Regions from separate parts of the Homo sapiens genome. Here region 1 is linked to region 2. Evidence: fine-mapped expression QTL. Tissue or cell type: unexposed skin. Region 2 holds a variant in brackets; the other region holds the start of a gene. All regions are shown on one strand. Distances are between the middles of the regions.

The links. PIP is the estimated chance that this variant, and not a neighbour inherited with it, causes the effect.
Region 1: it holds the start of ADSS2, and the variant in region 2 is fine-mapped to the expression of ADSS2 in unexposed skin (GTEx, PIP above 0.99).

What each region holds. Positions count from the first base shown.
Region 1 is chr1:244,448,092-244,456,091 of GRCh38, reverse strand. ADSS2 (adenylosuccinate synthase 2) reads left to right here and starts at 4,183. Exons shown (of 13, transcript NM_001126.5): 1 at 4,183-4,457. The coding sequence starts at 4,275. It also overlaps a transcript of CATSPERE not described here. RefSeq lists silencers at 3,794-4,283, 4,724-5,003.
Region 2 is chr1:244,364,658-244,372,919 of GRCh38, reverse strand. It overlaps SPMIP3 (sperm microtubule inner protein 3), which reads right to left. Exons shown (of 5, transcript NM_001012970.3): 2 at 8,164-8,232. The coding sequence starts at 8,219. Among named protein-coding and RNA genes, the nearest start is that of SPMIP3, 16 kb to the right of the region's middle. The variant G/A (reference allele first, on the strand shown) is at 3,406.

The DNA of each region.
Region 1 (8,000 bases), 83 kb before region 2:
GGGGGCGGGGGGGTGTTTCCATGTCTTCCAGGTGGCCAAAGCATGCTTCTCTGATCCAAGTGTGCGAAGAGCCAAGTATGCCTCCGTAACTACTATTAGCCAACTCCTAAAGTATATTTCCTACCTAGTTGTTATACACCAAAGCTCTCTCAGAATGAGAAGTAATTTCTGATGCCCCTAAAACTCAAAACCGTCAGATAACACAATGCAAAACAGAATAGAGCCTTGGATTTTGAGAGGGATCTGTCTGCTTTTAATTCTTGGGGTTTCATGAGGAAAACAGAGCTTTTTTCCAAAACGGGGTCTGTGGTGCCTCCTGTTTTTCCCAAGGAGTCCCAGGCTACCAGAAGCTATCTCAGGGCCTCTCATGTGTACATTAAGATAGGCAAAACAAAAAAGTGGAGGAAAATAATTCAGTTGACTGAGAAGGAAAAAAAGACCTTTTTCCAGAAAAATAATCTTTTTCCAGAAAAACAAGATCCAAGAAGAGAGAAACATAAAGGCCTTTTAAATATACCTACAGCTTGTTTATCCACTTTTAATTAAGCTGACTTTTAACCATAGCGCTCTTTAAAAAAAAAAAAAAACCCTTAAAAATTTTATACCCAACTTTAGCCACGCCAAGCGGCCAATATTTTTGGCTTTTGAATTCTACCACAGGTAACTTCCCACCTGAAATTAAGTTTTAACTAAGTTTATAACCATGGACACACAGGTGTCTCAAAGAGATGGTAAGCAGTTTTTTTTTCTACAAGATGTAGAATCTCCCCCAGGGTAGTTTAGAGAAAGGAAAATTCAAGACAGGAAATCAGAAGCTATTCATGGGAGCGGGGGGACGCGGGAACCTCAATAAATGGCAAAGTTACAGAAATAAAAAACCAGAAGGGAATCATTCCAGAAGCCAGGAATAGAACCCAGACCCCCCACTGTCAAGAGGCAAAACCTTAGCTACTGAGTTACACAGTATTGAGCAGTTTCTATTGTGCTTCCCAGAAGGAGCCTACAGAAGCCAGTTTCAAGCTTGCAAAGGCTTTTAACTGCTCAAGAAAATTCTTAGGGCTAACCTAAAAATCCCCAAATTCCTGTCTTCTAGATGGTGGAAACCAAGAGAAAGTATCTCCACATGGTCACAAAGTTAAGCTCTTCAGGACACAAAACAAGACAGAGAAATTTCATACAGTATTGGCTTCAGGGACCTGTAGCAAAGTTTGTAACTGACCAGCCTGCCAAGCCGGCTTGAAAAGCAGGCTTATAGGGGTCCTAAACCCACGTTCTATCCTGTGACACCCATCTATCCACTACAGAACACAGAAAGACAAATTCTTAGCACAAAACTACACCAGATTTGCTACAGCCTAAGACTAGTCTCACAAATCCTTTTTTCCATTTATCAAACCCTTGCAGAGGAGGTAAACAGTTTACTATTTACTGAGAAAGAGAGAGAGAGACCACAAACCGGTCCGGTAAGAATTTCATACCCTCTGTGCCGGCATACCAGATTTCCGGGTTCCCTTTCTCTGCAGTTTCCAGAAGAATGGAGTGGCTTTTGATGACCCTGCTTGCTTGTGCTATAGCTGTGGGGTTCAAGCCACTTTACAAGAGAAAATCACCCTTTACTGTTTTATGGAAACATAGACGAGATTCTTAATTTGCAAGATGCTGCCCAGCGGGCTGCATGGGGAACCGAATTAACATTTTCCATCCCAGCAAAACACACATAACAAAACACACATTAGCCACCTCGTTCAGCTCCCAATATCAGCCTGGCAAAGCTCAAAAACTTTTTCTCTTTGGTCCCTGTTGTCTTTGATCCACTCCAGGTGGGGAGGGATGACCTCCGAACGGTAATTCACAATGGGGTCTCTGGGCAAGACGAAGAGCAGATAGTCACCCCGAGACAGGCCTGTTGAGCCTTCTGTAGGGCTCATCAAATGTGACCAGACAAATAAGGAGGGTTTTGAGTTAGGTCTGCTGGACTTCCATCAGCAACCTCTTCTGAGATCCCTTCCACATATACAAACGCACACAAAGACGAGAGGACAGAAGGCGTTCCCAATCAGATCCCTAACCAAGAACTCCGGGAGTATCCCTTCCAAACTATCCTCCTATTCTCCTTCTGAGAAACCTCCTTGAAATCTTCCTGATTCAGGAGAAGTCTCCCAAACCTGGACTCTTCCTACTAGTTAGAAAGAGCCAAATGAGACCCCCCCAGGAGCCGAACAGACACCCTGCAATGGGGCTACAGACACCTCACCATAGGGCTACAGAACCAGTTGGGAGAAAGGAGGCGTTGGCAGCACCTAGGATACTCACCAATCCAGACACCCTGCCCTGCAATGGGGCTACAGACAGACACCCTGTGATAGGGTTACAGTTAAGGGACGTCTCCCCGGGGCTATTTCTCCATTGCAATTAAATCCATGCACACTGGGTTGGCAGCACCCCACCAGTAGAGAGAGTACCAGAGTCAGCCCCCAGTCCAAGAGAACTGGGTGGCCGCTTGGGCAGGCTTCTGGATCCATTGCTGGAGGGGGGCCACTGAACCACGAGTAGGTAGCCACAAAGGCAATGCCAGACAAGCCCCCAAATTTGTAACCGCCCAAGGGGTTCACCTTGTCCACTGCCTAGACAGAGCCAATTCATCAAGACAGGCAAATGGCAATAGAGAAAGAGTAATTCATGTAGAGCTGGCTGTGCAGGAAACCAGAGTTTTATTATTACTCAAATCAGTCTCCCATAAATGATTTTAAAAAATTGAATGGAAATGACTAGTAAGGTGTGCTTATTCAGTATCTACTATCTGCCCAACACTACCTCGGGCATTTGACTAGAAAGAAATAGATGGCATTCTTGTTTCCAAAATGTTTGTGATCTTGTAATAAGGCCAAGATAGACAACAATTATCACATAGTATTATAATTGTTTACTAATCAATAGACCAAATAATTTGAATCCTTGAGGGCTGAATTGTATCTTTATTTCTCCTATGTTATCAGTGCCCAGGACACTTAGTTAGTTAATAGCAGGTTCTCAATGTTCCTGACTTAACTCATTGACTAGAAATAAAATACTAAAGTGTACTCTAGGGACCATTAGTGAACATACAGTATGTACAGGCGATTTGGGAGACGGTACATATAATGTGATTCCATTCCCACTTTTTTTCGAAGCACCTTTTATCAGAATTAAACATCATAGTTAATTTGTGTTGGTGTCGAAAGGGCATTAGATGAACAGTAGGTATACACCAGAATCTAGTTACAAATGTAACTGAGAGACAGTGGAATCTACAGGAAGGACATGGGCTCTGGACTTAGATTATCGAAGTACCAATTCAAGCCTCACTAGGGCAAGTTACCCAGCTTTTAAATCCTGTAAAATAAGGATAATAGAGGATCACCTACCTTATATGGTTGTGGGGATTAAAAAATAAAGAAGTGCATGACGGTATCTGCATATATGTACTATATGCGACATAGGTAATCCACTCCTCCTCTCTGAGCCTTTGTTACTACTATGTAAAATGAGGATTAGGACTTTATTTGATCTATTGATTTCAGGTCTCATGTCCTTTATCTTATTGCCTTACTTTTGAATTTTGTCTTTTTTGATCCCTGTCCCCATCTCTGTTACTTCCGGACTTTTAATTTCCAATTCTACACTTACACGTTCCGATTTTATGCTGTTTGTACTGCGAAATTCCACAGTTTGTATTTTGTACACATTCATTCCTTAATAAAGACAAATCCAGACAAACCTGCAGATGGCAGACACAGTGGCCCCAGAATACACCGCCGCAGCCCAGAGCGTTGCATGCTGGGATTTGTAGTCCGACGCTCCACACGCGCTTCCGCGCCTCTCCAGTTTGAAAGCGAGAGGTAGAGCGGGTAGGCGGGGTGCTGAAGGAGAAGCGCTCTCGAAGCCCCGCCCCTGACCTTTTCCGCTCGCGAGGTTTGCACGGGAGTGGCGCGCCAGGCCGCGGAAGGGGCGTGGCCTCGGTCCGGGGTGGCGGCCGTTGCCGCCACCAGGGCCTCTTCCTGCGGGCGGTGCTGCCGAGGCCGGCCTGCGCGGGGCAGTCATGGTACCCCCTTGAGCGGGCTGTGGCGGAGAGCGGGGCGGGGACTGGCTGGAGGGTGGCGGCCCGGCGGGGCGGGGGCGGGGCCGGCCTCTGGCTCCTTCTTCCTCTGCATGTGGCTGGCGGCCGCAGAGCAGTTCAGTTCGCTCACTCCTCGCCGGCCGCCTCTCCTTCGGGCTCTCCTCGCGTCACTGGAGCCATGGCGTTCGCCGAGACCTACCCGGCGGCATCCTCCCTGCCCAACGGCGATTGCGGCCGCCCCAGGGCGCGGCCCGGAGGAAACCGGGTGACGGTGGTGCTCGGTGCGCAGTGGGGCGACGAAGGCAAAGGGAAGGTGGTGGACCTGCTGGCGCAGGACGCCGACATCGTGTGCCGCTGCCAGGTGAGGCGACGGGGCCTCTCATGGGAAGCCGGGCCCGGGAGCTCGGGCTGCCTGGCTCCTGGTGCCCGGGAACTCGGACCCAGAACCCGGATCCACTGGCCAAAATGAGGTGTCACCTTGAGGCTCTCTCCTCCTGTCCTGAGCTGCGGCTACGTGGAGAAATGGCGGGAGGTCGGGGACCCCTGACCTGGAGCGTCGGGTGAAACTTGGGGTGGCCCTGGAGGAAGAGGTGGGCTGGCGGGGAGCCTTTGAGAGATGCGCGATGCCTGGCAGTTGCAGTTTTGCGTCTGGCGAGTGGTGCTCAGCGCCGGGACTGAGGCCGGGGTGGAGGTGGGATGCGGTCCGAGTTTGAGGAGCTACCGCCCGAGGCCTGCTCCCAACTCTTCCGACTGCGGGCGGAGACCCGGCGCGACGGCAGAACCCCCCATCACCGCCCCCCCGCCCCGCCCAGGGCGGCGGAGTGGGAGTGGATTGTTTCGAAACGTCCTGAAATCAGACTCACCGATCCCCCATCTGCAGGACCGTGGCATGCAGTGCTTTGCTTCCTCTGGTCCACTTTGTTGACATCCAAACCCACCCACCTCTGGGCTTTGGACTGTTGTTTTAGGGCCCTGAGTTTCTTGTTTTTGTTTTTGTTTTTACAGTGTGCTCCATACATGAAAGTTAAGGAGAAATTACTTTTACTAGTTGGTCCCAGAGGAAGGAATCCCTTCTCTGTTCAAAAAAAGTGAGGGAAGTAAATACATGGATGTCAAATTGAGTATTTGGAAATAAATATTTGCATTGTTAAGGTGACATCGAAAGTGAACTTTCGGAAAACGAGGTGGTAATGTACTTCTAACGGGAGACACGTGGTTTTCAGTGTAACCTTTCTTCCTATTTGTCGTTTCCTTTGACGCAGCATACAGGGTAAGGCCTTTGTAAAGGCTCTCAGATAACTCTCTCCAGTTTCAAAATTCTAAGCAGATGAGCAATAACCACTTTCAAAACAAAGCATAATGTAATATTTGAAGTTAACTGCTATCTGTTTAGGTTGCAAGAATATTTGTTTTTGAACATGCATGGCATGATATGATGGTGCCATGCTGTATATGTTCTAGTAAGTTATAGGCCCCCTTGAATACCATTTTGAGCATGCAGAAACAATGAAATCACAGGTATGTTAAAAAGCTAAATGCAAATACTGCAAATATTCTCTGATTTACCTTGTTTCGTTTTGTTTTGTTTTCATTTAGAAATCCACCCTGCCCATTCTGAAATAGCTGTTGCACTAATTGCCTCTTAGGAAACTGTCACTACCACCTCTCCCTCCTTCCCTTCCAGCCTATTATTTCTCCACCCCTCTGGCAACACACTTTGTACCTTAGCAATCTTCAGGGTGTTGCCATTAAATTCCTGCCCCGCACTTTCTTAGGAAATACTCCAGAAATCCAGCCTTTACCTACCTTTTGTCTTACATTCAGATCTGGTCATGCTGTGGGGAAGACGTATCCGAATACCGAGCTTTCTTGCTGTCGACAGCGGGAGAGAGGCTGAGGCCTGTGTGTCTCCTTCACTGACATCTTGACATCTCGTTAATATGGAAATAGCTCAGGTTGAGCTACACTATGGGTTGTAAGAAGGTTTGGAGAACACAACCATTATGGTATTTATTCTAAAGGATCCTCAATTTTAATATTCTATGGAGAAATATTAGAAGTAGTTTGTAGCTTGGAGAAGGTGTTACTAATGTTACCGAGAAAGTAGTCTTGAAGTCATGGACCAACCTGATCTGATGCCCTTGGAAAGGCTAGAGAAGTGATTGAGAAGGAACTAAGTTTGGCTTTAAAATGTTAGCTGAAGATAGTGGAGAAACAAATGAGGGGCCTTGTTGGGCAGACTTCCCTCACCTGTGTATTTTTGACTTAACTACCTTCCTTATAGAATCCTTATGTTCTTTTAGTGCTTTTTAAAAGTGTATCATTAGGATTCTTTATTAGTCTTGTTAGCAAAAAATAGATGAGTAATGAATAGATTTAAGCATTATCTCTTTTGTGATTTACCTTGGTAACTTTGTATTATTTGGTTAGCCCTAGTAAGCTGGCATCTACTTAATGAAGTTCCCCTAGGTTATAAAATTGGAATGTTGAAGTTCTTAGTGAGTGTGTATAGAGAGCTGGAAAAAATCAACAGTAAGACATTGTGAGCTTGGATTGCCTTGTTTGATGTCTTAAGTTTTGTGTGTTAGTGAAAATATGTCCTTTGTTAGAGTTTAATATATTCTGCCATATTTATGTCATGAGTTCAAATTTTATTCAGTACTGTTTCTCCAGAAGTGATGTACACATAATGTATCCGTATTTCACCAGTAGACTCATAAGGACTTTCTCCCAACATAAAATATAGTTTTAAAAAGAAAAACTGGCATTGCATTTAATGATAAATTTTAATGTATAAAATGCCTTTTTGGAAACAATAGATGCAAACCTAGTGGCGTTTTCACTCTTAACAGCGCTTAAGGCCTGTGTTGTTCAGATTCAGGATTTATGGGGAGTTATTTATAACTTGGTAGGTTCCCCAGATCCATAAATATGTAGGACTTGCATCAAAGGACAACCACTACTGCTGCCTTAATTTTAAATCAATATTTATTTTAAGAAGAAGAGAGAAGAATTAAATAGAGGCCCAACCCTGGGTACAGGTCATTCATCTAGTAAACATTGAGTATCTGCAGGGGATCACTTAGCCTGGGAGTCAAAAATCTGAAAAAGGCAGGGATTGTGCCCACAAGGAGCTCACAATCTGGGGGACAACTGCTGTGTAAGCAAAAGTGTTGAGAAGGTCGGGATGGAGAAAGGTACTAGTCTAATACGTTTCTCAAGAGGTTAAAGTATGGGACCAAGAAAGTCCCTTTCTGGCATCACAAAAGGAAGCCTAATACTGTTTTTTCCCCAGTTCTCTCAAAGTAAAATACTGTGCTTTGTTTTCTGTATTTTGCTGAGTAGAAGCTACAGAAACTTCTTAACTATAGTAGTTTATACCAGGCTTTAAGCAAAGGCTTACTTATTTATTGTTCTTGAGGAAAGTAACTTCGGTGGTCTTGGTTATAATGACACACATGAAGTTGCCTGTGATCGGGAAAGGCTAGAGCAGTGTTCCGTGTGTATTCTCTCCAAGGCTTCAAAGTCAATAAAAAGAGAAAATACTAAAGTTAGTCATAAGGGAAAGCACACCCCATCACTTGATATATGTTTATAAAAGCTTGCTATAAAAATAAACATACTGAAAAAATATTACTATTTTCTAGCTAGATACAAGTATCTGCTGAAGATCTGAAACCACTATTAGTGTTAAAGAAGCATAAAAGACATATCAGCAGCAAACTAAAACTTTCTCCTTGAAATAGAAAAGGTGAAAGATAATTTAAAAGAAAATAACGTTAGTATTATTTAATGCCTTGACCTTGTACAGCTAAAATGATCTGCCAGACTACTTCCCATAATTTTAAGGATAGTAGGTAATTAGCATTTAAGGTAAGCCATTCTTCCAGGTTTATAACAATTG
Region 2 (8,262 bases):
AGACAAAGCTGCATCTTCAGGCATTGGAAAGAATCCTGCCTTTCCCCAAGAGAGGGAACACAATAAATGGCCATCATTGGGAAGGTGACTTTATTGAGTTTGTGATGCCTGGACATGTGGGGTCTTTCGGGATGTCCCACAGATTCTGAGCAGTCAGTAGATGCCATAAAAATTCAAAGTCAGGAGGCTGGGCTCGCGCCTGTAATCCCAGCACTTTGGGAGGCCAAGGCGGGCGGATCGCAAGGTCAGGAGTTCGAGACCATCCTGGCTAACGCGGTGAAACCCAGTCTCTACTAAAAATACAAAAAATTAGCCAGGTGTGGTGGCGGGCACCTGTAGTCCCAGCTATTTGGGAGGCTGGGGCAGGAGAATGGTGTGAACCTGGAAGGTGGGGCTTGCAGTGAGCTGAGATCGTGCCACTGCACTCCAGCCTGGGGGACAGAGTGAGACTCCATCTCAAAAAAAAAAAAAAAAATTCAGAGTCAGTAGAAAGTAGCACATCATTTTGCATAACGTATCTCACTAAATATGTGTTAGATAATGGATGAAAACTGAAACTATGCCTTCAGTTCGACTCAACCAACATTTATTGAATGCACACAAAACACCCTGCACTATGCTAGGCTCTGCAGATACAAAGCTGACTAAGAAGCAGCGCTTGTCCTCAAAAAGCTCTTCACATGCTGAAATAGTGATCTGAATAAAGGGTCCATAGGACACAGAAGAGGGAGGAGTATCTAGATCTAGGACTCGGATAAGCAAAGGGGTTGGGGAAGAGATTCCAAGCAAAGGGAATTATAGGGGCCAAGACATGGACAGAATTAGGTTCTGAGTGGAGTGTATGAGGGCTAGAGTGGGCCTGACTGTCTAGCATGAAAGGCAAGCACTGAGCAGGGCGAGTTCTGTCTCTGTCTGTGCAAAGACGACCTCTGGGAGCTCTGATTTGCAGAAAAACCACAGGCTGTCTGGGCCTGCCCAGTGGCTGGGATAATATGACTGAGCCCTGGATGGTAAATAACAATGGGGTATTAAGTCATAAGAAGAGAGAGGAACTGGCACAATAAAGGGAACAAATGACATTTCTGAATGCACAGGGGTGGGACACGTAGCTTTCTTAGGCACCTATCCATTTTCTGAAGCACCACCTTGGAATATTACCCCAGGGCCACATTACAGTTTAAGAACCCACCTAAAGGATGCTGGTTTCTACAGTTGCTGGGCTGTGGGCGGTGGGCTGGGTTTTGACCATGGCGTGCATACAAACAAACACCTGCTGAATACAGGTGAGTAAACTCAGCGCTGCTCCTTAGAAGCAGTCAGTAAAAGCTGATTTGAGGATAAAGAATCCCAGCACCAGCACCAAGTAATCCTCCCTGCCACCGCCCCTTGGCAGTGTCTCTTGGCAGGTTTTGGGAGGAGTGAAAAGAAAATGGGAAGGTGTGTGTAAGGAGATGGGTGTGGAGAGAGGGATGGCTGGGTGGAGAAGAGAGTTTTGACCTCCTAAGGGGAAATGTCTAGCCAGGCCAGAGGCTGTGCATTACCCGGCCTCAGTGAATGATTGTGAAAGCACGTGCGGACTCTTCAGACTTGGCTGTGGAGGCCAGCCCAGCTCAGGGCTCTGCTCAGAGTGATTCTGTTGAACCCGGGTTTTAACCAGCTGTAGAAAGCCCTTTCCTTCTCACTGGGCAGGTGCAGGCACCGTGCGTGATTTTGAGTCCCTGATGGCTTGGCTTTTTGAGGTGATGTATTCAGTCCACATGAGAGCAAACCTGTTCCCTGGGAGGGTGGCTGTAAATGGAGTGGGATCTGGGCTTAGCCACAGTCAAAATTCAATATCTATAGGAGAGGCCAGAGGTGTCGGTCCCTCCAGAGCCTGGCCCCACAGCCCCAGGTAGCCTGTGTTCCTGTGACCACGCTCTTCTCTGTTACGGCCCTGCTGGGGCTCATCCTCTACAGAGCATTTTTACAGAAATGATCTCACTTAATCCTCACAGTCACCTTGCAAGGTAAACATGATTAACTCTCTGCTTTATAAGAATAGCCCAAGTCTCAGAAGGGTTAAGTGGACTTTTTAAGTAGTAAAGTCCACTTAAACAAGTAAATGCCAGCGCCGTGTATCAAACCCAGTTCTCCAAACTCCATGTCGCTATTCTGCCACCCGAGGGTATGTGTGATGATTTGTTTTAATAAGAATTCAGTGCTATTTTCATACAAACTCTGTGATTCTCTCATTTTGGGGCAGACAGCAAATAGACATTGTACACTAAAAAATAGGAAAAGCCATAAAGACACAGCAGTGTTAGCTGGAAGATGCTTTTAACTCAACGAAAAGCACTCACTGCAAGCTCTGCTGTGCCTCCAGTGGGCTAGGCACTAGGGATACAGTGATGACAATGTTGTCTTTCCACTCAAGAGTTCATAATCTGGTCAGGAAAGCCACGTTTAGGCAACTATCTAATCACAGACGATGTGGTGAGTGCTACGCCTGATAAGAAACTGAGGCTCAGGGGAAGTAAATAACTTAGCTAAGGACATGAGCTAGTAAGTCCAGAAGACAGAACTAAAGGAAGGACTAGGAAGCCTCCAGACCTGTGCCCTCATCTCCCAGGCTCTGCCGGCTCCACAAGAATCTCCTCAAGGGAGTGGGGAGCCTCAGTTTCCTCATCAGTAAAATGGGAATGATACTGTCTTCTCCTTTAATGATTGCATGAGAGTAAACGAGACATTTGTACTTGGTGGCTAACATCTCCCAAGGTGTTGGTATTGATACAGGAGATGGAAATTATTTAGGCAGATGGAAAGGGCAACAGAGTCCTCGGCGGAATTTCCCTTTTAACAAAAAGCAGCCCCAAAGTCATTTATTTTCTAACAAAGAGTAGCCTGTAAAATCATGCTGCAGACATGAATAAGCAAGCTGGAAACTTGTGTGGGTGAATGCTGGCAGCTGTGCCCATAGAAAAGGGCTACCTGAGGGCCAGCATGTTCAACATGGAGGCGCCATCTTCCCCTTTCTCTGTCACCACGTGTATAGTACAAACAAAAACAGGCAACTGAACGTGACCCGGCTAGGCAGAGAACCCATCTACATAATAAAAGATTAGGGTGGGGCGGCCAGCTTCTTCACGTGCCATGCAAACAGCACACCTAGTCCTAACCAGTTCTTCCCACATTATGCAAACACCACACCTAGTCCTAACCAGTTCTTCTCACGTTATGCAAATGGCACACCTGGTCCAACCAATCTTTCGTGCCCTATGTAAATCAGACACCACCTCCTCAAGCTCGGTTATAAAACCTGCACTTCACCAGGGACCAGAAGACCCACTGCGACTCCCTCTCTCTGTAAGAGAGAGATTTTCTCTTTCTTTAGCCTATTAAACCTCCGCTCTTAACCTCACTCCTTGT[G/A]TGTTCACGTCCTTGATTTCTTTGGCGTGTGGCAATGAACCACGGGTTGTACCCCAGAGAAATGACGCTGCTCCAATATCATCCCACGCAGGATGGGCTGACCACACAGTTGCCTCTGGATCTTCAGAGACTGTTTCGATCAAAGTTTTAAAAGTCTATTTAAATCACACACAAATTCTGTATCTTCGATCTTCTACAACACACTGAATTTAATCCACTTAAAGTGATCTTTTCAGGAGTATCCTGGGTTCCACAAACCAATGCCACACCCAGCCCTTCTCTGAGTGACAGGCCTCCAGCCTGTAGCCAGGGGATGGCACCAGTAAACAGTTGCATATAATATGATTTTTTTTTTTGAGACGGAGTCTGGCTCTGTCGCCAGGCTGGAGTGCAGTGGTGCAATCTTGGCTCACTGCCACCTCTGCCTTCCCAGGTTCAAGCAATTCTCCTGCCTCAGCCTCCCGAGAGGCTGGGACTACAGGTGTGTGCCATCACGCCCTGCTAATTTTTTGTATTTTTAGTAGAGACGGGGTTTTACCATGTTGGCCAGGATGGTCTCAATCTTTTGACCTCATGATCCGCCTGCCTCGCCTGCCATAGTGCTGGGATCACTGGCGTCAGCCACCGCACCCGGCCAATATGATGATGAATACAAGAATTTTATGTGGCCACTACTAAGTGTGAACCATTTAATATTTACTTTTATTTAGTGTCCCAAAACCTCAGTTTTCTGTAGCGTAGCTCTGAGGCTTGGCCATTTAAGGATGAATTGGATACATGCTTGTGCAGAACCACACAAGGGCAGGCTCAGGTGCCATCAGTCACCAGGGGTACACACCACACATAAACGATTGGATAACTTTGCTCACTCATTCATTTCAATATTTTCAACAACCGTGCCTACAGGGCCTACCAGGAATGGTAATCTGCAAGGCAGAGGTCATGATAGTGAGTTGCAGAGAAAGGGAAGTAAGCCCTGCCTGGAGGGCTAACCTGGAGATGTGGCAAAATGCAGTGACCACAAGCACAGACGTGAGTTTAAGTCCCATGTCCGCCAGTCAGTAGCTGTGGGATCTGGGGCAGTCATTTAACCACACCGTGCCTTGGTTTCCTCATATGAAACTCACAGTAGTGAAGGTTAAAGGAGTTCAGATGCACCTAGAACAGTGCTTGGCACAGAGTAAGAGCTTCAGAAGTGTTTACCATTATTATTCCAGGGGGTGAGACAGGCAGGATATAAAGAAACAGATAAAGTAGGCCAGGTGCAGTGGCTCAAGCCTGTAATCCCAGCACTTTGGGAGGCCAAGTTGAGTGGATCATTTGAGGTCAGGAGTTCGAGACCAGCCTGGCCAACATGGTGAAACCTTGTCTCTACTAAAAATAAAAAATTAGCCAGGTGTGGTGGTGGGCGCCTGTAGTCCCAGCACTCGAGAGGCTGAGGCATGAAAATCACTTGAACTCAGGAGGCAGAAGTTGCAGTGAACCAAGATCATACCACTGCACTCCAGCCTGGGTGACAGCGCAAGACTTTGTCTCAAAAAAACAAAAACAAAACAAAACAAAACAAAAAACCAAAAACCTTTCCTTCCTGAAACCCGGATGAGGAGGAAGCAGGGGAGAGAGGAATGGAGTTGGCTCCAGTATTTCCTGATTGTCTCCCCACAGCGTTTGCTCTTTCTGTGTGTGTTTGAGATCTGTTTTGTTCACTGAGAGGCCTATTTAACTGTGGTCTTATCTGGGGAAAATGGAAACAAACCTCCATTGGCCACTCCTGCCTAGTGCTCTGTGGTGTCTGGACCTGGCCGGGAGTCCGGGGGTTTGGGTGGAACTGAGCACAGCAGGCCCTGGGGCCCCTGGAGGCCTAAGGCTGGGCTGTCTTCTGCTCTCTGGGGCTTGTCCTCCGAGCCGCACGTGGGTTGGGGGGCACACTGACGGCTCCGGCTCTTCCTGCACCTGAACTAGTCTTGTTGCCCCCACCCTCCGCCCATAGTGCGCACCGTGAGGCAGCTCTGTGTGCCTCTCCTGACCTGTGGGTCCAATCAGCAAGTCCGTGCATTCCCCCTCCAGGCTGGATCTCCCATGGGACGGCTTCTCCAGCCCACGGCCACCCCTTGGTCCAGCTCACCATTGCCTCCCCCTGCTCTCTGCAATAACCCCCACTCTTGTCCTCAGACAATCTGTTCTCAGAGTGAGCTTCATAAAAGTAAATCGGATCAGGGCCCTCCATTGCATAAAACCCTTCAACCCATTGCATGTATAATAGCATAAAACCCAGACTCACTATTGTAGGCCACAAAGCCCTCCGGGAACTTCTCCTGCCTCTACCGTCCCAACCTTCTCCCAGCTCCAGCCCCTGTGTCATCATGTCATGGCTTCTTTCATGAATCAGGGATTTTGGACCTGCACTTCCTCCTCCCTAGACCGCACCCTTCTCCCACCCCCTGCCCCTATCACCCAGCATCATGCTCGGCTGACAACTGCTGAGAGAGCTGTTCCCTGAACACCCTGGCTAGAGAAGGTATTCTCCTTCTGCCTACCTCTCCACCTGATTATTCTCCCTCACACCCTTTTTCATTTCCTTTATCACAACTTCCAATTATTCTATCTGTTTAGTTTTTCTTTCTTTCTTTTTTTTGAGACAGAGTCTCATTCTGTTGCCCACACTGGAGTGCAGTAGTGCGATCTCGGCTCATCGCAACCTCTGCCTCCTGGGTTCAAGCGATTCTCCTGCCTCAGCTTCCCGAGTAGCTGGGATTCCAGGTGTGTGCCACCACGCCTGGCTAATTTTTGTATTTTTAGTAGAGACAGGGTTTCACCATGTTGGCCAGGCTGGTCTCGAACTCCTGACCTCAAGTGATCCACCCGCCTTGGCCTCCCAAAGTGCTGGGATTACAGGCACGAGCCACTGCATCAGGTCTTAAAAGAAAATTCTTAAGATGTAGCCAGGAAGGACACATCCATCCATTCACTCCTTCTGTAGTTTCTGGAAGAAGGACTTCTCTTTTGTTGACCAAACATGGCTAAAATAACTCAATATTAAAATAAACATGAGGCTGGGTGTTGTGGCTCACACCCATAATCCCACACTTTGTGATACCAAGTGGGAGGACTGCTTGAGGCCAGGAGTTCCAGACAGTCTGGGCAACATAGTGAGACCTGGTCTCTACAAAAAATTTAAAAATTAGCCAGGCAGCTTGTAGCCCTAGCTACTCAGGAGACTAAGGCAGCAGGAAGATCAGTTGAGCCCAGGAGTTTGAAGTTGGACTGAGCTATGATCCAGCCACTTCACTCCAGCCTGGGCAACAGAGCCAGACTTTGTCTCTAATAAATAAATAAAAATAAAATAAACTAAACACGAGGCTTGCTCAAAGCCACAAAGCCAACGGGGCTACAGGAGGCTGACCCCCATGTCATGGTGTGAGGTTGCTGTCACAAATTTATAGCTACTACACTGCTGCAGACCCGTCGAGGTGGTGAAGGGGGAGTGGGGTTAGGATTTACGGACTGTCATCTGATACCAAATTTAGCACAACAAGACAGATCTAGGGCTTGTTATTCTTGTGCCATAGAGGACCTTGAAGAAAGAGCGAAACAGCTCCTTAGTTTCCATCTGTGCCGTCAGCTCTCATCAGAGGAAGCACAGGAGCAGTTTGTTTTCCCACAAGCAGAGTAAAATGGTCCAATCCAAAATGTGGGCTTGGATTGCTCAGACTTCTCACTAAAGCTCTTCCCAAGCAAAAACCAATATCCTTCTGGTCTTTTGGGAATTTGGAGTTGCCTGTTTGCTTGGATTCTGCAGTGAGTGTGAGGCTTCTTTTTCTTACAACTTTCCCTAAACCCAATGTGGAGGCTAGAGCAACTCTATGTTGGATGCTAATTCACCATGTTGGCTTCTGATTAACCCCTTGTATTAGCCCATTTTCATACTGCTATGAAGAAATACCCGAGACTGGGTATTTTATAAAGAAAAAGAGGTTTAATGGACTCACAGTTCCACACGGCTGGGGAGGCCTCACAATCATGGCAGAAGGCAAAGGAGGAGGAAAGGCATGTCTTCCATGGCGGCAGGCAAGAGAGTTTGTTCAGGGGAACTCCCACTTATAAAACCATCAGATCTCGTGAGACTTATTCACTGTCAGGAGAACAGCATGGGAAAACCCCACCCCATGGTTCAGTTACCTCCCACCAGGTCCCTCCCACGACACGTAGGAATTATGGGAGCTACAATTCAAGATGAGATTTGAGTGGAGACACAACCAAATCATATCACCCCAGGCCTCTAAGATTTCCAGTTTCTCTATAGTTCCTGGTGTCAGAGCAGGTACTTACTGTAAGTTCTGCCCTTCGGCCAAACAACATTGGTGTTATCGTACTTCAATTGTCCCATATATCCCTTCTGTATCACTCTTCCCCTATGGTATCTAAATCCTGGGTCTCAGGGGTAATGGCGCAGACATCCACCATCTCATCTCACTGCTACCCGAGACACATATATGGCTTCTGTTCGTAAGTCCCTGTTAAATATTTCTTTGTAAGAAACTGGATTTGTCAGCCTCTTTCTTCGGCGTCTCAGCTTCCTCTGACTTTTGCCGGTAGGTTTGCACAGACCTGCTCATCAGGAAATATCCAAAGAGCTTCCCTAGAACTCCCTGGCAGTAGTCTCTGGACCACTGAGCAGCAGGATGTGCAATTCTAACTCCCCAGGCACCTGGCTGCCTGGCTTCAGTCCCGGAGGCTGTGCATCTGGAAGAACTATACCTTGGCGGGATCACTGGGCGACGCTCAATAAATTCTCGTAGTCGGATGGCAGTCATGATGGATGGGAATCTGAAAAAAAATTATGGCATAAAGGATTAT